Linked DNA regions of Homo sapiens: all the other regions are linked to region 4. Evidence: fine-mapped expression QTL. A gene starts in region 4. Each other region holds a variant in brackets. All regions are shown on one strand. Distances are from middle to middle.

Evidence for each region. PIP is the estimated chance that this variant, and not a neighbour inherited with it, causes the effect. A credible set is the group of variants that fine-mapping cannot tell apart.
Region 1: its variant is the best candidate, but not a certain one, in a credible set for the expression of NTSR1 in whole blood (INTERVAL, PIP 0.67).
Region 2: its variant is the best candidate, but not a certain one, in a credible set for the expression of NTSR1 in spleen (GTEx, PIP 0.77).
Region 3: its variant is the best candidate, but not a certain one, in a credible set for the expression of NTSR1 in monocytes (TOPMed, PIP 0.76).

What each region holds. Positions count from the first base shown.
Region 1 is chr20:62,726,397-62,731,540 of GRCh38, reverse strand. The region is part of intron 1 of NTSR1 (neurotensin receptor 1); the gene reads right to left. NTSR1-AS1 (NTSR1 antisense RNA 1) reads left to right here. Exons shown (of 2, transcript NR_199009.1): 2 at 1-1,611. Among named protein-coding and RNA genes, the nearest start is that of NTSR1-AS1, 6.4 kb to the left of the region's middle. The variant G/A (reference allele first, on the strand shown) is at 2,591.
Region 2 is chr20:62,684,054-62,689,197 of GRCh38, reverse strand. It overlaps a transcript of SLCO4A1 not described here. Among named protein-coding and RNA genes, the nearest start is that of SLCO4A1-AS1, 20 kb to the right of the region's middle. RefSeq lists an enhancer at 4,617-5,144. The variant C/T (reference allele first, on the strand shown) is at 2,651.
Region 3 is chr20:62,674,596-62,679,739 of GRCh38, reverse strand. It overlaps a transcript of SLCO4A1 not described here. Among named protein-coding and RNA genes, the nearest start is that of SLCO4A1-AS1, 11 kb to the right of the region's middle. The variant C/G (reference allele first, on the strand shown) is at 3,191.
Region 4 is chr20:62,706,510-62,711,653 of GRCh38, reverse strand. NTSR1 (neurotensin receptor 1) reads right to left here and starts at 2,818. Exons shown (of 4, transcript NM_002531.3): 1 at 1,733-2,818. The coding sequence starts at 2,446. RefSeq lists enhancers at 1,527-2,071, 2,072-2,618, 2,828-3,340, 3,341-3,854.

The sequences.
Region 1 (5,144 bases), 20 kb before region 4:
ACAAGATAATAAAATTTCTAGGTAATAAAATCTAGGTATCTTGGGTATAAAATCTAGGTATCTTGGGTTTGGCAATGAGTTTTTAGATGCAACATCAAAAGCATAATCCACAAAAAAAATGAATAAGCTGGACTTCATTAAAATTAAGAAATTACACGGCTGGGCGTGGTGGCTCACACTTGTAATCCCAGCACTTTTGGAGGCCAAGGCGGGTGGATCACCTGAGGTCAGGAGTTCAAGACCAGCCTGACCAACATGGAGAAACCCCATCTCTACTAAAAATACAAAATTAGCTGGGCATGGTGGTGCACGCCTGTAATCCCAGCTACTCGGGAGGCTGAGGCAGGAGAATCACTTGAACCCGGGAGGCGGAGGTTGTGGTGAGCCGAGATTGTGCCATTACACTCCAGCCTGGGCAACAAGAGCGAAACTCCGTCTCAAAAACAAAAAAGAAAAAACAAAAACAAAACAAAACAAAAACGCTCTAAAAATGACACTGTTAAACGAATGAGAAGACAAGATACAGCCTAGGAAAAAATATTTGCAAAATACTTGATAAAGGAGTGTTATCCAAAATATATAAAGAACTTTTACAACTCAACAATAAGGAAACAAACATGAAGAAATGGGCAAAACATCTGAATAGACACCTCATCAAAGAAGACGTAGCAATGGAAAAATAAGCACAAGAAAAATGCTCCACATCATATGTCATTAGAGAAATGTCGATTAAAACAATGAGATCAAATGAGAATGGCTACAAAAACCAAAACCAAGATCCTGACGACACCAAACGCTGGCAAGGCTGCGGAGCAACAGAACCGCCCTCACCCGTGGCTGCTGGGAATTCAAAATGGCGCAGCCGTGCTGGAAGGCACTTTGGCAACTTCCTACAAAGCTCAACGTATCCTTACCACGTGTTCCAACGATCGCCCTCCTTGGCATTTCTACTCCCAAAGGGGTGAAAGCCACACAGAAACCTGCACATGTATGTTTATAGCAGCCTTCTTCATAAATGCCAAAAACCAAGATGTCCATCAATAGCTGAGTGAATAAACAAGCTGGGGGACATCCAGATAATGGAATATTATTCAGCCGTAAAAAGAACAAGCTATCAAGCCATGAAAAGACAGGGAGAAACCTCAACTACATACTGCGAAGGGAAAGAAGCTGGTCTGAAAAGGCTGCATACGGTATAATCCCAGCTGTGTGACGTTCTGGGTAAGACAAACTGGAAAGACAGTAAGAGGATCAGTGGGTGCCAGGGGTTGTGGGGAGGGAGGAATAAACAGGTGGAGCTCCAAGGATTTTTTCGGGCAATGAAACTCTTCTGCAGGATCCTGGGATGGTAGATATAGGACATTACACATTTGTCCAAACCCACAGAAGGTACAAGACTGATGAACCCTAATATAAACTGCAGACTTTCCTTAATAATGTATCAATATTGGCTCATTAATTGTAACAATGTACCACACTAATGCAAAATGTTAATAACAGGGAGACACCTGTTATTAACAGGTGAGGGCCAGGAGACACCATGGAGCCGCTGTCCTGTGGGCTCAACGCTTCTCTACAACTGTTCTAAAAAATAAAGTCTATTAATAACAATTTAGATGGCCAGGCATGGTGGCTCAGGCCTGTCATCCCAGCACTTTGGGAGGCCGAGGCAGGCAGATCACTTGAGGTCAGGAGTTTGAGACCAGCCTGGACAACATGGTGAAACCCTGTCTCTACCAAAAATATAAAACATTAGCTGAGGGAGGTGGCGGGCTCCTGTAATCCCAGCTACTCAGAAGGCTGAGGCAGGAGAATCACTTGAATCTGGGAGGTGGAGAGCTGAGATCGTGCCACTGCACTCCAGCCTGGGTGACAGAGCGAGACTCCATCTCAAAAAAAAAAAAAAAAAAAAAATTAGAAACCCCTAGCCCCAAGTTCTAGGTCTCTGCCCTGGAGATTCTGATCCAGTTGGTCTGGGGTGAGCCTTGGGGTCTGCATTCTGGAAGCACCCCTGGGGGAGATTCCTGAGGCTATAAGGCTCTGAGCTACACCTGTGTCACCTGTGTTTCCCTCTCCTCCCCTGAGGGCCCACCCTCCATCCATCACCTGCACCACAATCCCTGTCTCAGGCTGTGCTTCTGAGGACTGCCCCCGCTCCATGCACGAAAGAAATTCCAGATCTTTCCATTCTCCCTTTGTCTCATCTCTCCCCAGTGGGCTGGAAGCCACAGAGCCTGTGTTGAGCAGGCCACCCTGGGGCTCCCAGGGAGCTACTCTCTCCCCACCCTGCCCTCCTCCCGGAGCCCCCAAGTTGGGAGGAGTGGCTTTGACCATGCAGATAGCCACTCCTGGGGGCTGCAGGCACAGCAGAGAAGCAGACTTGGGTGGATCTGTGGGTGTCAGGCATTTGGGACATGCCGTGAGTAAGTGTGTCTGGATACAGCTTCAGTCTCAGGTTTAGCTCCCTGCAGGGCACGAGCCCCTCAGGTGTGCACAGACCGAGGACTGGACATCCATCTCTTGGCTCTTGCCAGCAGCTTCTTCTGAGTGTCGCCGGAAGGGCTGGGTGGGGTCAGGGGACAGTCTTAGG[G/A]TCCCTTTCCAACTCAGCATCTCCGGCTTCCTTCAGAAAAGAATCTACCCCAAGACCCTTCTCAGTGTCCTGAAGCCCCTCTGTCTGGAGCGAGGACTCCACTGAGGGCCGGTTCTGGGTGCAGGTGACAGAAACTGGGTGGGCACCTGGCTGGGCTGTCCAGGTGACCTGGTGGACGTGCCTCTGGCGTTTGGCAGAAGTGGCTGCCGTGAAACCTGCTTGGCCTCCGGGTGTTGGCCTGCCCTTCGCGACTCAGTTTCCTTTTCCTTCCCCTTCCTGAGCAATGCTGGCACACACAAAGAAAGCCCAGCTGTGCACACAGCGTCTTCCGCAGACACCGTGGCCCAGCCTCCGGCAGGCAGAGAAAACCACAAACGGCCTCCACTTTCACCGAAATGGAAGCAGCCTTGCCAAGGGGATGTTAAGAAATGAACTTCTGCCATTTTTAGAAACTGAACAGTAAAAATCCCCGGGAATGAAGCTGGTGCTGGAAACGGAAGCTCCGTCCCCTCCTGCGGGGACGTCTGTCTGTTCATCACCAGTAGTGTCTGCACCCACCCAGCTCCACCCCCTCCTCAGGGTGGGGCTGCCGCACACACTGACCGCAGGGATGGGGAAACAGGGCTTCATGGAGGAGGTGACCCTGGGGTCCAGCTGAGTAGCCGGGGAGGGAAAGAGAGAGCACCGACCCCAAGGTACCCATCTCCCTCCTGTTGATCAAGGCTCGGATGCTGGGAGACTCGGGGGGACCTGTGCACCACTCCCTTCCCCTGACTTCAAAGCCGACTCAGCCCCTCCTCCAGGAAGCCCTCCCTGCTGTCCAGTCCACACCCCTCATCCACAAGGCTCGTCCTTGTGGTCATAAGGAGCCCCAGGAGGGGGAGTAAAGAGCCAGATGATGGGGCCGGGCCTAGACTGGCCCTTCCTTGGCCCTGCAGGCACCGTGGGCCTGGGGCAGCCCTGAGGCCTCGCTGGGTCCCCAGCACCATCTGCTGTGACAGGAGGTGAGTGAGTGCAGGCCCCAGGTGCTGGGTCGGCCCACGCCGGGAGCGCCGGGAACACAGGTCTGTCCCTTTGCCCACTTGGCCCCACCCTTGCCATGGCACCCATACCCGCCTGCCCTTGCTCTTCTCCCACTCTGGCCCTCGGCTGTGGCCCTGGTGGCCGCTGCTGTGCAGTTCTGAGGCCGGGGCCATTTGCTGATCCAGGGGCTGCTGCTTTCAGCCCACAGGTCCCCCTGCCACCACGCCAGACACAGGTTTTGTGATGAAACCTGTTTGTGGCTCAGGCACTCCCGCCTCCCCTCCAGGAAATCCACGTCCAGCCACCCTCTCTGTGCTATCCCCTCAGTCACCTCGATGCTGGAGGCGGAGGGCTCAGAGCCACTGCCCAGCGGCCGTACCACAGCGGACTCTCCTTAGACCGGTGCTGAGCCCGGCGGCCGGGCAAGGTGCAGAGGTGGCTCCAGACCCGCCGGCAGTCCAGCTGGCGCTATCTCTGGGGCAGAACCCGTGGCCCCAGGCGGTGACAGCCTGTGTGTTTTCAGTGTTCACTCCTCACTCCAGCTCACCTGTTCCTGGCACTCTGGGCTGGGACTTGCTGGGACCCCCCACTTCCACCCAGCCCTTGCTGCTCCCTGAGGGTGGAGAGGAAACCCTGTCCTCAGGCCCTGTGAGCCGGAGAGAGCGCATCTACGTGGTGACAGGTCTGTGGGGCCGGGGAGCCTGCAGGAGCCCGGCTCAGGGTGGGGGCAGTGCGGAGCCCTCACGGGCTCCTGTGTGGGGCTGGTGTGTCCTGCCCTGGCTTATGCAGGCAACCCGCTTCCCAGGCGGATGAGGCGGTCTCTCGGGGACTCCAGGAGGGCCTTGAGCCTTGGAACCAATGAAAACAGGTGATGCAGAAACCCTTCTCCTCCAGCTGTGCACCCCACAAGCTCTGGCAAGGACCCCTTTCATCCAAGGCCACGGTTGTCCACAAAGCAGTTTCCAGATGGGGCTCAGAGGACAGGTGCACCTGCCGTCACCTGGTTCTCAAAACCATCCCAGTGTGGATGGGGCCACATTGGAATCCTGGGCAGGAAGTGCCCGTCCTGTGAGCATCTTGGCCATCTGTAGCCTTCTCCACTAACGCGGCCGGGGCCAGGCTTGTCTTAGGTGCCTGTGCCTCGGGGAGCATGGACCTGTTCCTCCTCACCTAGTAAAATGAGAAAAGCACTCCACAGTTGTGAAGCCATTCCCACCATTTTTTTTTTTTTTTGAGACAGGTTCCTGCTCTGCCGTCCAGGCTGGAGTGCAGTAGTGCCATCACGACTCATTGCGGCCTTGACCTCCCAGGCTCAAGCGATTCTCCTGCCTCAGCCTCCCAGGCAGGGGCCACAGGCACCAGCCAGCATGCCCAGGCAATCTCAGCATCCTAAAGCCTGCTATGCCTGGGATGGCTGATTCTCCTGGGGACCGGTGGGCAGGCAGTGGGGATGCCGTGCTAAGCGAGGTCCTGCTGGTGCCTCTTGGGTTTCCTTTCTAAGCAGCCCACACTCCTGGGCCTGGTCTCGGAG
Region 2 (5,144 bases), 22 kb after region 4:
AGGCGCGGGGCACAGCCAGGGACAGGCCTACGAGGCGCGGGGCACAGCTGGCCACGTGCAGGCCAGGGAAAAATGGGATGAGGGTTTGGAGATGAGGGCCTGACTTGATTCCTTAGAGACCGTCCATTTATGGGAAAGAATGGGGCGCCTCCGGCCACCTGCTGGCTCCAAGACTAACCACAGGAGGAAATGTCAGAGGAAATTAACTGTGCTCGAGCTTTTGTGATGAGCCTGATTTTCCAGCTTCTAGAAAGCTGTGCTTCCATGCTGAGGCTTGTACTCGTTCGGTTTATTGGGAAGAATTAAAGGGCTTCTCGGAAAATGTTAATGTCTCCTTCCCACCAGCCTGGCCACCCCAGCTTCCCCCAGGCCCTGAAAGTTAGGTCTCCCCTGTGTTTGGTGCTTCTGACATTGCAGAGGGACTCCTTCCTCCTGGCAGCTCTGCCTTCAAGCCCAGAAAGCCATTGCTGGACACAACCCAAGTCAGGGGACCGGGTTTGCTGGAGTGGGTGGCAGGGGGCATGCATCCCCCACCCCAGCCATCTGCTGGCTCTGGAGCCCTGCTCTCACCCAGTTGGTGTCTCCTGGGCCCTGCGTCCATTCCATTTTGCCTTCAAAAGCCTGAGCTGCTGCTCTTACTCACTCAAGAGAGCCTCCAGTGTCCAATGTGAGCCCCAAACCCCGAGAAAATATAGGCAGAATTGTGTTTGCTGTGTGCACACAGACTGAGCTTTTGCTTAAGAACCTGGTGGGGCTACAGGTGAGCGGGGTTGGGGTGAGCAGGGTCAGGGGTGAGTGGGGTCATTGGTGCACGGGCAGGGTTGCACAGGGCTGGGGGGTGCATGGGTAAGTCCTAGCACTGAGTGGTGTAGGGGGCAGCCTCCCTCCCAAAGAGGCCTCGTGGGGGGCCGCGGGCAGGACCTGGGCGAGGTGTTCTCGTAGGGACCCCAGGGATCCTCCTTGCCCTCTGGGATGGGCTATCTCTGCTGCTCAGTGGACGCCCAGCTTCTGCGGCTTGCATATGGGGTGGCGTGTGAGTCAGCCCCTTCTATGTATGTGTGCACGTGTGTGTGTGTGTAGGTCTCTTATGCTGCTGAGAGCCTGGAAGGCAATGAAGTTGGTGGTGCTGGGACCTGGAAAGCAATGAAGCTGGTGGTGCTGGGACCTGGAAAGCAATGAAACTGGTGGTGCTGGGACCTGGAAGGCAATGAAGCTGGTGGGGGTGGGTAAGGCCCGGGGGTGGCTGCAGCGCGGCACTAGTGCCTGGTAGGACATGGCCGGGAGGTGAGTGGGGATCCCCTGGGGTACCTTTTCCTGCACTCCCATGTGCTCAGGGATACCCCTGAGGCTCGGAAGGCAGGTTGGGCCATGGCTGCCCTGGAGGCTGTGCTAGGCTGGCAGCCTAGTGGCCACGCTGACGACATGGGACCCGCGGCCCCAGCAGAGGTACAGGGAAGCCGGTGTCGTCCTTCCGTGTCCAGGAGCGGCCCCCCACAGCCCGTGCACCCCGAGGTGTGGCTTAGGCCCAGCCCTGCCCTTGGGGCGCAGAGTCTGGCTGGAGAGGCCCACCCAGAGCGGGGGATGGCAGGGGCCTCCCAAGGGACCTCCCCCTCTCTGGCTCAGAGGCTCTGCCCCGTGCGCTGCCTCCTGGCGTGGCCCTTGCCGGGCTCATTGTGTGGGTGCCAAGTGCTCCTCAGATGGTTGGTGGAAGGACGTGTCTCTGCATCCCGCCCGGATGACGCACCTGCCCTGCCCTGGACGCCACTGCGTGGTTTCTTCCGCCTCCTTGGCCTGCTGGCTCCTCCCCGGGCCTCGGCTCAGATGGCTCTTCCTCCACATGCCCTTGGCCTTCAGTGTAGACGCCCCAGGGTGGCCACTGTGTCTCCCGTGGCTGTGTGGCGTTTGGTCAACTTCATGGACCTTTGGAACAACGTGGGGCCAGGATTAGGAAGCTGCTGCCACTTGCCTTCAGAGGCCCCCGCTCCTGTTTGGGGGTGCCCTTTCCATCGCTCCTGTTTGGGGGCGCCCTTTCCATCGCTCCTGTTTGGGGGTGCCCCACCCATCGTGCCTGTTTGGGGGTGCCCTTTCCCATTGCTCCTGTTTGGGGGTGCCCTTCCCATCGTGCCTGTTTGGGGGTGCCCTTTCCCATTGCTCCTGTTTGGGGGTGCCCTTCCCATTGTGCCTGTTTGGGGGTGCCCTTCCCATCGTGCCTGTTTGGGGGTGCCGTTCCCATTGTGCCTGTTTGGGGGTGCCCTTTCCCATTGCTCCTGTTTGGGGGTGCCTTTCCCATTGCTCCTGTTTGGGGGTGCCCTTCCCATTGCTCCTGTTTGGGGGTGCCCTACCCATCGTGCCTGTTCGGGGGCACCCTTTTCATCTGCCTGCAATGGGCGCCCTGGCCAGCCACCCCTTCTCTGTGGTGCTGGGCACTCTGATACTCTCTTCCTGTCTCTGCACCGTCCAAACCTGCCCTTGGTAAAATAGCTGATATACTAATTCAGACTAAAGGGCCAACCATGGCTAAGACTTAGTGTACTCTCCTTTTCTTTTCACCTTATAATAAAATATTTTTAAAAGAAAGAAAACAAAACCAAGATCTGACTCTGGAATGGTGTTCAGCTGGCAGGGAAGGTGTCTGGGGTCAGAGGGCCCT[C/T]GGGGGCTCAGAAACAGCAGGAGGGCCTGCTCTTTAGGCAGCTGCCGGCCCCTCCCCTCTTCCCCGCTCCTGGCGCCAGTGTCTTCTCACTCTGTCCCCGGCCCTTGGTGGAGCGGAGTTGCATTCATCCTGAAGCTTTAGGACATGACACTCAGTCACAACTGTGACATGAGAAGAACTGCGAGCTCCACGCCGCTCTGCGGTTGACTGTTGTCCTCAGTAAACAGGGAAGTGCCTGTCACTTCTCAGCTGGGGGGAGGAAGGCTCGTTTCCACCCGGTGCTTGGAGATAATGTCCTTATGAATAGCTATTTAGACACCACCTGCCATCCTGTACCAGGAGCTCCGCACTGGGGCGGGAGCTACACGGAGACACTCAGCTCATTATTCTGAGCCGTCTCCATGGGCGGCTGCACTCCCCAGGTACAGAGATTGCCCTGCCCAGATGGGAAGTGGCCGCGATAAACAGGAATGGACGCAGGGGCTCTCGGAGTCCAGAAGCCCCCCAGTCCCCGGAGGGTACCTTCCCCACACTGTCTTGCTAATTCAGCGGCTCTCATCATGGTATGTTCTGTCATCAGAGATGGGAGTGGCCAGGGAGGACTTGCTCAGCCATGGATCCACACCGAGGCTGTGGGGGCGCCTGGCTACCTGTTTACCAGCCCTGTGTCTACAGCTTGGAGGAGGACGGAGGGCTTCCTGGAGGAAGAAGCCGGGAAGCAGCTCTGCAGGTTTCACACCCCTTGCAAGGGCAGAATTCTTAGGAGGGCAGAACCCTTTATTTCCTTAGAACGGGCGCATCTGCACACTTATTATAAGATCTTAATTCTATATGAGTGTGCCATGCTGGGTTTCCCAGGTAGAGAATCCACCCCCTCCACTTCCGTTGTTTCGTCCACCTCTTTCGTGCCCTGGGCATCGGAAGCAAATGCATTCTCTCCCAGGAGAACACAGGCAGTCCACCCTCTAGAGAAAGCCTGCTCTGGAAGACGTTGTCAGAAAGCCGAGACTCCACATCCATCACGGCCTTGGTGAAAATCCAATTCAAGGAGATCTATGTGTAAGGCTCAGATGGGGTTTACAGCCTTCTAAATTCATTCTCTTCTTCCTTAAGAAAAAAACAACAAACAAAGCAAGAAAACAGCCCGCTTGGTCAGGCCACAGCAGAGTGGAAGGGAGCGGGTGCAGTTGCCCCACGAACCCACCCTTGGGCACCGACCAGCTGGGGAAGGTGTCGGGGGGCAGCCAGGGCAGCCAGGGCCCAGCCCCGACCCAGCCCCCACTCCCCACCACCCCCCTCCTCCTGCCCCCACACCCCGCTGCCACCCTCCCCTGCCCGCCTGCTTCACTGCACCCAAGGCCTGCCCGTGCCTCCCCACCACCCCCCTCCTCGGCAGCTGAGTGCCCTGCTCTGACCATGTGTGTTTTATGACCCTGGCTGGTCACACGTGCCCCAACCTCCATGCACTCCATGCACTGTGGCCTCACCCCAGACCCTTGGCCCCTGCTAATCCGCCCCATTACTGGTCTCTCTGAGGTGCTGCAGGAGCCCCTGGCGTGGCTGCCTGTGCATGCTTTGGCCGGGCCTTTCTGGGGAAAGTGGAGAGTAGACAGTGCTGCCATTCTCGCAGCTCTCGTTGCCCAGCTGGTGTGGTCGGGTCGTTGCTGCAGACTAAACTCACCACGGCCATGGGGTGGGAGGTGGAGCACGGGCTAATGAGGTCTTAATGAGCGACTTCCAGGTGTGGGGATTGCTGGGGTGGGGGCTGCCCTGATGAGTTATGGGGACCCCTGATCGCCCTGGCGGGAATGAGTGTGTCCAGGGCAGTGGGGGGGTTTGCTTGCACACTCAGGAAACTTGAGGGAGGGAGTGGGGGGATGAATGAGCTCGTGTCAGTGGCCTAAACTTAAATGACAGCCCAGTCCCTGGGATGCCAGGGAAAGACCCTCCCTAGGGACTGAACTGGTGCCAGGGTGGCCGGCCCTGTGCTGACAAGCAGTCTCCCCTGTGATTGTGGTGGGGGCATTGGACAAATCTAACCCCAGTGGATAGATGTTCTGGGGAGACCGGAGGCTCCCAGAAGAGGCAGCGTAGCCTGGTGGGGGTTGGCTGATGAGCTCTGAGGCCATCACGGGCCAATCAGCTCCTTGTGCCTCGGTTTCCTCACCTGTCAGGCAAAGGTGCTGATGGTTTTAGTGATTTAACAAACACATGTACTGCACTTCCTATAATCCAGGCACCCCAGCTCATCACCCCAGTGAAACTGAGACTGTGGTATCAGCCCCATTTCAGAGGGGAGAAACTGAGGCACAGAAAGGTTAAGTAGAACACCCAGGACCCCTGGGGCTGCCACATGCCCCTGGACCTCCCACTGCTGTTGGGGGATGAGTGTGTGTGGGAAGCGCGTGGTCACGTGAGATCTTTGCGTGAGCGTGTGTGGGAAGCGCGTGGTCACGTGAGATCGTTGCGTGAGCGTGTGTGGGAAGCGCGTGGT
Region 3 (5,144 bases), 32 kb after region 4:
GAATGAGAAACAGTGTTTTTGATTTTATTTTTTAAGCTATTGTGCAGTAAAACTGGCTTGTAAAAAGTGATTCCATAAACCAGGCATGGTGGCTCACATCTGTAATCCCAGCACTTTGGGAGGCCAATGCAGGAGGATCGCTTGAACTCAGGAGTTCGAAACGAGCCTGGGCAACATAGCAAGACACCCTATCTACAAAAAATACAAAAATTAGCTGGGCGTGGTGGTTATGTGCCTGTACTTCCAGCTACCTGGGAGGCTGAGGTGGGAGGATCACTTGAGACCAGGAGGTCAAGGCTGCAGTCAGCCATGATTGTACCACTGCACTCCAAGCTGGGTGGCTGAGGGAGAATGTGTATCAGAAAAAAAAAAAAGGAATTTGATGAGTTTTGACACATGTATGGATTTGTGGAACCACGTCCACCGTCAGGACACAGATAGCTTCATGACCCAGAACCACGTCCACCATCAGGACACAGATAGCTTCGTGACCCAGAGCAGCTCTGCCATGCTACTTTTTTGTTGTTTGTTTGTCTGAGACAGAGTCTTGCTCTGTCGCCCAGGCTGGAGTGCAGTGGTGTGATTTCGGCTTGCTGCAGCCTTTGCCTCCCAGCTTCAAGCGATTCTCCTGCCTCAGCCTCTGCAGTAGCTGGGATTACAGGCATGCTAATTTTTGTATTTTCAGTAGAGATGGGGTTTCATCATGTTGGCCAGGCTGGTCTCGAACTCCTGACCTCAAGTGATCTGCCTGCCTCGGCCTCCCAAAGTGCTGGCATTATAGGCGCGAGCCACCTTGCCCAGCCCCATGCTACTTTTAAAAGCCACAGTTTCCTCTCCACCCCAGCCCCTGGCAACGGCTTGTCTCCTCTCCATCCCTGCAGCTTTGCCTTTTGGAAGCTGTTGTGTAAGTGAAACCACACACTACTAACCTCTGGGGTCTGGTTCTTTTGCTCAGCGTGGTGCCTCCCAGGTTCGTCCCTGTTGCATATTAACAGTGCCCCCCTCTCACGGCTGAGTCTATCGTGTGGCTGTACGACTATTTATCCTTTCACTTCCTAGAGGACATTTGGGTGGTTTCCAATTTTGTTGATGATTGTGAAAATTCGCTTGAACCCGGGAGTAAGAGGCTGCAGTGAGCTGAGATTGCACCACTGCACTCTAGCCTGGGTGACAGAGCAACACCCGGTCTCAAAAAAAAAAAAAAAAAGAATAGCGCTGTAAGAAACATTTGTGTACAAGATTTTGTGTGAACATAATTTTGCCTTTCTCTAGGAGTGGAATTTCTGTGTTATAAGAAGGTTCAGGTCTAACTTTATAGTAAACTGTCGAGCTGGGTTCCCGAGCGGCCGTATTGCTCTCCACGTCTACCGGCGACGGGTGAGTGTTCCAGCCACCAGAGTCCTCATCAGCACTTGGCATTGTCAACAGCTTTCTTTTAAATTCTGTTAAGTCCTGACTTCTTTAATTTTATCTAAATTTTGCTTGAAAACTGAAGTTAAACAAAACCCTCTCTTCTCCTTCTTATGCACAGCTGCAATAAAGCCTGCTGGCGTTTCTGCCTGGAGTCGCCGCTCGCCCAGGGCATCTGCACGTTTTCTGCCTCTGTGTCCCTGCAGGCCACAGCGCTGCATAACCTACTGTTCCTGTCTTCTGAGGTTTTCCCTTCCTCCAGCTTCCATCAACCTTTGCCTCACTTTCTTTCAAGCCTTTACTGACAGCAGAGGCCCTCAGGCTGAAAACAGCATCCTTACTTCTTTCCTTCCCAAATCTGCAGGTGTGGCTAGGTGGGAAGGGCTGATTCCCTCCCCTAAGGGGAAGTGGGGACAGAGAGCCCAGCTGGGGACTGGAGCACCCAAGACGGCACCCCCATCACGGCGGACTCGGCCTGGCTGACAGCTGGTGCCAGAGCGGGGGCTCCCATGACCTGGGCTTGCTCACAGCGTGGCGCTGGGTTCCCAAGTTGAGCGTTCCCAGAAGGCACTGCCAGTAGAAGCTGTGTCACCTCTGCCACGAGGCACTCCCAATCGCCTGCCAGGCTCAAAAAGAGGGTGCACAGACCCCACCTCCAGCAGAGGAAATGGGACATATTGTGGCCGTTGTTGGAAAATATCTGCCTCAGTGGGGTTGGAGTGCAGGTCTCTACGCCCCCTTCCTGCCTCCTGCCATCCTCTGCTCAGTGGGGTTGGAGTGTAGGTCTCAAGCCCCCTTTCTGCCTCCTGCCACCCTAAGGAAGTGAGCAGGGAGGGAGATTGTGGTACATCTGAACATGGGGCCCACACATGCTCTCCTGGCAGAGTTGCAGTTATGGAACAGACACCAGAAAGTTATGGAACAGACACAGATCCCCCAACAGATCTCCATGGTCTACAGGAGTGAAAGCACAGGGCAGGCAGTCAGCGATGAATGCATGGATGGATGTATTTAATAATAGCTTTACTGAGATATAAGTCACATCCCCAAATATTCACCCTTTAAAGTGTACAATTCGGTTTTTTAAGCATGTTCACAGAGTTGTGCAACCATCACCGTTATCTAACTCCAGAACATTTCATCACTGCACCAAAACGCCCTGCACCCATGACAGTCGCTCCCGCCTCACCTTCCCCCAGCCCCTGGCACCACTAGTCCATTTTCTGTCTCTACAGATTTGTCCATTCTGGACATTTCTTACAAAAGAATCACAAAACACGTGGCCTTTTGTGTCTGGCTTCTTTCACTGAGCATGTTTCAAGGTCCATGCGCACCTGCACACCATAGCGCAGGGCTTCATTCTTTCTGATTGACGGCCAAGCAAGACCCACTGTGTGGACAGCCCACGCTGATTTACCTACTCATCAGCCAGTTGACATTCGGGCTGGTGCACTTTTTGACTGTTATGAGCAACATTGCCGTGAACATTTGTATGCATGTCTTTATGTGGACATATGTCTTCATTTCTCTTGGGTAGATACTAGGTGTGGAATTGCTGGGTCATCTGCTAATTCCATGGTTAACTTTTTGATGAACCGCAAAACTGTTTTCCAAAGCGGCTGTGCCATTTTACCGTTTTACATTCCCACCCATAGTGTGTGAGGATTCCAAGTTCTCCACGACGTGTCGTTTTCTGGTTTTGTTTGTTTGTTGCTTTTGTTTTTGATACGGTCAGCGCTGTGGCTTTGGTTTGCACTTCCCTGAGTGGGAAAATCTTGAG[C/G]ATCTTCTCCTGGGCTCGTTGGCCTTTTCTATGTCTTTTGTGATGAAATAAAAGTCAAATCCTTTGCCCATTTTTAAATTGGATCATCCTTTCATTGTTGGGTTGTAGGAATTCTTCTTATTATTATTTTGAGAAAGAGTCTCACTCTGCCACCCAGGCCAGAGTGCAGTGGCACATTCATGGCTCACGACAGCCTTGACCTCCCAGGCTTAGGCGATCCTCCCACCTCAGCCTCCCAAGTAGCTGGGACTACAGGCGCACGCCACCATGCCCGGCTAATGTTTTGTATTTTTTTTTTACAGAGACAGGGTTTCGCTACGTTGCCCAGTTTGGTCTCAAGCTCCTGGGCTCAAGCGATCTGCTTGCCTCAGCCTCCCAAAGTGCTGGGATTATAGGCGTGCGCTGGCGAGCCGGCCGAATTCAGTGATAATTTTTAAATGCACAGAAGAATAAGAGGAACTGGTCCAACAACCAGAAAATTTGACGTTTCCAGCTGCTCCTGGCGTCTGACTCTTGAAGAACATTTAGTGCACAGCACACAGGAGGCCCCCGCAGCCCTCATCCCAGCAGCCGTGGAAAATCTCTCGAGGGAAAACCAAGTGGGCTTGGAGGACTCCTGCCTGCCTCTCCCTCTCCCAGGATGCATGTCTTTCTCCTCCCCACAGGCAGCCGGGCCCTGTGGCCGGCACCTTCCTGGCTAATCCCAGGGGCTCCTCCCAGGACGTGGGAGGACAGGGGCTGGCTGTGGGAGGCATCCAGGACCCAGGCCAGCATGCAGCCGAGGGCGTATCCAGGGCCCATGTGCCCACCAGGCTGGGTGCGCCCGTGATCCCGGAGAAGCGGGGGGCCTGTGTGGGCATCTGCAGATGCCTTCTGGCCTCTGTGGCAGGGCCAGGAGCCACACGCTCCCTGCACTGAGTCACACAGAGGCTGGGTCATCAGGCCTGGGGGGCTGGGGCCGGGACCAGGCTGCAACCAGACTGCTTCCTCTCTGCCCCTGTGTCCCAACTGTCCCTGTCAGCCATCTGCTCCTGTCTCCTCCCTGGGCCTGAGTCAGAGCCAGGCGGATTGTCAATGGGGAAGGCAAGGGGAGCTTAGATCGAGGCGAGGGCAGCAGAGCTCAAGAGCTGCAGAGACCCCGCAGCTCTTGGGAGCTGCCTGAGGGGTGGCAGAGCCCGCGTGGGTGGCCGGCAGCCCGGGCTGCCCACTGGAGGGGCCCTCCTGGACCTGGGAAGGGAATCTGGGCTTGGTGGCCTCATCCATCACGCACCACGAAGTCTCACTGCCGGCAGGGAGATGGATGCCTTGCAATGCCGATGAGCAGCCCAGCATACACCCAGTCGCTTTGGGGGCCGCTCCCTGGAATACCTGCCCTCCATCCTGGGCGGGAGCCTCCACTGTGTGCCCTGTGCGAACATGCTGGTCCTCTTCCTTCCCTCTCTCTGTCCTCTCTGCAGCTCGGGGCGTTTCTCTTCCTTCCTGGCATCCAGGGTGGGGGCAGGGCATGGAGCGGGACAGTCCTTGGAGCCCCCAGACCGGAGTCGAAACTCTACAGCCTCCGTCAGCTCGGCGGCCATCACAGAACCATAGCTTGGCGGCTCAAACAACGGACGTGCCTTACCCACATTCTGGAGTCCCGAAGCCCACGAGCAAGGCTGGGCTCCCAGGGAGGGTCCTTTCCTTGGTCTGCAGACGGCTGTCTTCTAGTCGTGTCAGCACATAGAGGAGAGAGGAGCTTGGTCTCTTCCTCTGTTACAGGGCTACGAATCCCATCGGGGGGCCACCCTCACCCCCTCATCTCACCCTAGTCACCTCCCTGAGGTCCCAGCTCTTAACACCATCACACTGGGTGCTGGGGCTTCGACCTACGAACTGGGGGATGCTGTCAGTCCACAGCCCCTGCCTCTGCCCATTTGTCACTGTGAGACATCGGGGAACACACAGGGCCGCTCAG
Region 4 (5,144 bases):
GGCTGGTGAGCTCCTGGCCTTTTGCCAGGGGAGCAGGGGGATCGGGGTTCTGAGCGGGGGGATCGGGGATCTGAGCGGGGGGATCGGGGGTCTGAGTGGGGGGATCCGGGGTCTGAGTGGGGGCATCTCCTGGGTGGGCAGTGACAGCGCTGACCCCTCCACTGCCCACCTTCTGAAGGACTGAGTGGCTGTCGCCCCTGGGGCCCCTCCACGCGGACTGGGGAGAGGTTCCCCCTGGCCAATGCCAATCAAAGACAGGAGCTTGGGGAGAGCAGATAAAGCCTCAAAGGGAGGGAGAGGTCATTTCTCACTGTGTTTACCCCACAGGCCGTGCCTACTTCTGCCTCTGGTGAGGGGAGGGACTCTCGCCGCAGAAGCAAAGCAGCCCTGACTCACTGCCTGCCACCAGTGTCTGTGGGAGGGGCCTCCCCGAGATGGGACACCTGTAGCCACCAGTTCTATGTGCAGCCAGGGAGACTGGGAGCTCAGTTCTACCCTCCTCCACCCCCCAGCCCACCTGGGTGGTGGCCAGTGGAGGGTCAGTTAGGGCCCAGGGAGTGACAGACAGGTGACCCCCTGCCCGGCACTGCTGCCCTCACCCCCACCGGGCATACTGGCATACGCGGGGTGCCCAGGCAACTACAGAAGCTTAGCTGGGAGGCTGGCGATGCTGGTGTGTGGGGAGTTGGGGGGACAGCCAGCCACCCTGGCCCCTCTAGCTGGGCAGAGGTAGGCGACTCTGCCCGGATCCTTCACCCTCTGGCTTCCTTAGCCCACCAGAAATGGAGGAAACCCCACACTTCTAAGGCTGCTCATTTCCAAGATGCCTTTCAAAGTTCCCGACCGGCCCTGACTTCCTCCCTGGACACCAGCCTCCTGCTCGGGGCTTTGGTTTGATCAGCCCTCCCCTCCAGCACTGGAACCCCCCGTGCCACGAACCTCAGCCAAACTGATTCCCAAGGGGGCTTCCCACCCGCATTCCCACGGCGCTTTGCTCAGACCCTTGGAGGGCCCTTAGTCACTCGGCTCCAGTTTTACACACCTCACCACAACACCGCCGCCACACGCAGATCCTCACAACCTTCCCCGCAGAAACATCGTCCCCACCATCCCGCAATAATAGTGCCTGTGAGCCCTTCTATGTGTCAGGGGCCATGCAAACACTTCCCACGCGTCCTCTCTCCAATGCTCTACCTTCTGAGGTCAATGCTATCACTACCCCATCACACAGATGGGAAAGCTGAGGCTAAACTAGGAACTGGCCCAACACGGCATCAGGTTCTGTTCTGACTCCCAAGTTTGGGTCAGGGCAGGCAGCTGGGAGGCACCGGCAGAGCCAGTCTGGGGGCTTCTCTGCAGAGGAAGGAACATCACCTGTTGGTGGCACAGTCTTTTGAGAAGCTGATGAAAGTGTTACTCTTCCTTTGGAGACGCAGGTGCCAGCGCACATGTTTCCATTAGGCTTAAGGAATTCAGAGATGTCCGAGGCCCAGCCACCAACACCAGAGAGGTCACAGGCAGGGGCTCCATCCCCTCAACAGGAGGGAAGAAGATAGGGGCTGAGCCTGGCAACTCTGGAGCTGCCCCCAAGCTGCCCCAACCGCCTTCCCAGCCTCGCAGGAGTAGACTGTCTCTGTGACATCTCTCCCACTCCCTACCCAGAAGGCACACCACTGGCACTGCTTTTGGGGTGAAGGAGAGGGGAGCCCCGGGGCTGGTTACTGAGGCTCACCTGTATGACGACCTTGACGGTGGCAGTGTGGATGGTGGGGGTGCACACCAGGCCGCCGGCGTGCTGGCCGTCGGCGCTGCGGTTCTGCTCGCCCATGGTGAACAGCATAGGCACCGCCAGCAGGGCCGAGGCGAGCCAGATGGCGCTGATGAACTTCTTGGTGCGGCTTCGGGACATGAGGGTCTTGGCCTTGAAGGGGTGGCAGATGGCCAGGTAGCGCTCCACACTCAGGCTGGCCACGTTGAGGGCCGTGGCGTAGGTGCAGGCGTCGCGCAGGAAGTAGTAGCCGCGGCAGCCGGCGTCGCCGAAGGCCCAGGGGTGGTGCACCCAGATGAAGTTGTACAGCTCCACGGGCATGGCCAGCAGCAGGGTGAGCAGGTCGGACAGCGCCAGGCTGCCCAGGTGGTAATGCACCGTGCTCTGCAGGCTCTGCAGCGACTTCTTCCGCGCCAGCGTGAACGCCGTCACCGTGTTGCCCACCGTGCCCACCACGAAGAGCGCCAGGTACACGGCGGTCACCAGCACCTTGGAGTAGATGTCGGTGTTCACGTCCAGCTCGCTGCTGGGTGCCGCCAGGACGCGCTCCGACGCGTTGCCCGAAGCGTTGCCGAAGCCCGGGGCCAGCAGCGCCTCCTCCAGTCCGGCCTGCGCCCGCTGGAAGGGGTCGGCGGCCGGCGTGCCCGGGGTTCCCGGCGCGGAGCTGTTGAGGCGCATGGTGGGCGCTGGAGTCCGCGGCTCTGTCCGGCGCCTCCGGGGCTGGAAGTCCGGGCAGGAGTGGGCGCGTCTCAGGCGGGGACCGATGAACGGGAGCCCAGGGGAGGGCGCGTGGCGAAGACCAGCGGGCGCGCCGTCCAGTCGGGAAGCGCCAGACCCAGACGCGCCGCCCCGGGCTCCGGGCTCCGGGCTCCGCTCTCCTCCGGACTCCCAGCTTCCGGCTCCTAGCTCCAGAACCCGTGGTTCCTCGGGCTGTCTCCCGGCTCGGCGCTTGCCACGGGTTCCAGGTGCCTCCGATCTCCAAACCGCGCGGTTCCCCAGGCCCCCGAGGACAGCGCCCAGCCCGGCTCGGGCTGCGCGGGGCGAGCTTGTGGCGCCGGGAGGAGCGCACGCACTGCTGCCCGGGCGCGCTCCCCTCCCTCGCTCAGAATCTCCTCCCTCGCGCTCTCCGCGCACCCCAGCCCCGCACACCTCCCGCCGCGCCCGCGCCCTCCCGGCTCTGCGCGTCTCCACGGAGCCGGCGGCCGCGCGGCGCGCCCAGCAGTGGGGGGTGGCGGCGGAGGAGGGAGGCAGCCCCCGCCGCCATCCCCGCCCCGCCCGGGTGCAGCCTGGCGGGTCGCCCCCTCGCGCTCCCCGGGGCAGGGCGGGCTGGGGTGAGCGCTCCAGGGAACCAGGATTCCGAGCGGGCGCGGCGGGTATCGTGCACCAGACCCTTCCTGCCACCCTCTTCCCTGTTCTCCGCAATTTCTCGCACCGGCTAGGAAGGGAACTATGCACCTCCCCCAACCCTGGGCTCGCTCAGTTGGGGTGAGGGTGTATCCGGAGGGCAGGGAGGGAGGAAGCTCCCCGCTGGCAGGGCTGGGCGGCTGCGCAGCTGGTTGGGCCGACCCCCACTCCTGGGTGTCCACAGGGTGCCAGAAGCTGGGTGCCCAGGGGGCTCTAGGACCACTGGAGATTACATTTCTGGTGATTCCTTTTAAAATCTGGCCGCAGTCATGGGCGTGCCTGGTCTGTGAATGCGTATTTCTGGGATGTGCCCAGTGGAAATGGTGGGGGCTCAGGGCATAGTTATCACCTGGGGCAGGATGGCGTGAGGCAGTACCGAGGGACACCTGCAGGGGCTGAGGAGCTGAGGGGCTGGGTCCTGCAGAGGCCGGGAGCCACAGATGGTTTCATCAAAGTCTGGGGAGGGGTGAATGAGGGAGGGCAGAAAGCAGGTGCCCAGAGCAGCACCCTCCCCACTCAGGGCCCTGCATCTGGCACCCTGGGCTGGTCTCATGACGCTATGGGATGTGATGCCCTGGGCCCCTTATTACTGCCTGGATTTGTCATCAGAAGCCACCCTGAGAGCCTGCGCCCCAGCAGGATTTGGGAGAGGCAGCCCCAGCACGCATCCTCCCAGGCCCTGCAGGCTTTGCACACTCCCTCCCTCTGAGTGTCCTCACAGGGTGCCCCGGCCCCTGGCTCGGGAGCCAGGTGAGGGCAAGATTCCTGTCCTTTCCGTGTCCCCCCCAGCACCTGGTGGCACTGGCATAGGTGGCCAGGCACAAGCTTGCCCCCCCCTCCATGTCTGGGTTGCCCAGGGGCCCCCAGGGCACTACTGTCCCTTCTCTGGGCCCTCCCCGCCCCCTCCCCTGCTCCCTCCTCCCCAGAACCCCTGGGAGAGGTTGGGTAGAGCTGCTGCCCCATGTGTGCAGGGCTGGGAGGAGCTGCTCGAGTGCAGCCCAGGGAACCAGCCTGGCCTTTGTGCACATGGCTGGCTGCACCTGCTGTGCTGGGAGCAGGAAACCTGGGCAGGCTGGGGCGGGGGTCGCAGGGTGTTGAGGGAAGCGGGAGGCTGAGGAACCCCCTCCCGGGCCCGCCCAGCTAGGAGAATTCAAGGCTTCTGAGCCGGTGGCTGGCAGCGGGACTCTGTGATTATTCGTCCGTTCTCGCCCTGCTTTGGACTTCTCTGTTCAACCGGAGCCTGATACTCTTGTCAGGGGGCTGCAGCTCACAAACATCAGAGCTTAGAAATCTTGGCATCAAAGGAAACGCCAGTGATCCCTTTGCTGGAAGCCAGTAGATAGGATTGAATGTTGGCCCTGCTACTTCACATTTGGGCGAGTGTGCTTAGCGTCTCTGTGCCTCGATTGAGTCGTCTGTAAAATGGGAATAGCGGCTGAATGAAGGGCAGGGCTGTTACTGATGGGTCTCCACGGGGAATGAACGAGGTCGAATGGGCTGTCGGGTGTGAGGTGAGGTGTTCCATCCAACTAGAATAGGCTGGAGTAGGCCAGATTTGTCCTCTGGAAGACACGATTCACCAGTTAAGTACACAGGTTTTTTTATTTTTTTATTTTTTTTATTTGTTGAGATGGAGTCTCGCTCTGTCACCCAGGCTCGAGGGCAGTGGCGCGATCTTGGCTCACTGCAAGCTCCGCCTCCCAGGTTCTCGCCATTTTCCTGCCTCAGCCTCCCGAATAGCTGGGACTACAGGCGCTAATTTTTTTGTATTTTTAGTAGAGACAGGATTTCACCATGTTAGCCAGGATGGTCTCCATCTCCTGACTTCGTGATCCACCCGCCTTGGCCTCCCAAAGTGCTGGGATTGCTGGCGTGAGCCACTGCGCCCGGCCAAGTACAGAGGTTTGGGCGGGGACCTTAGCATCCACACCATGCCAGGGAGTACAGGTGCTGGACAGTGTGAGGTCCAGGC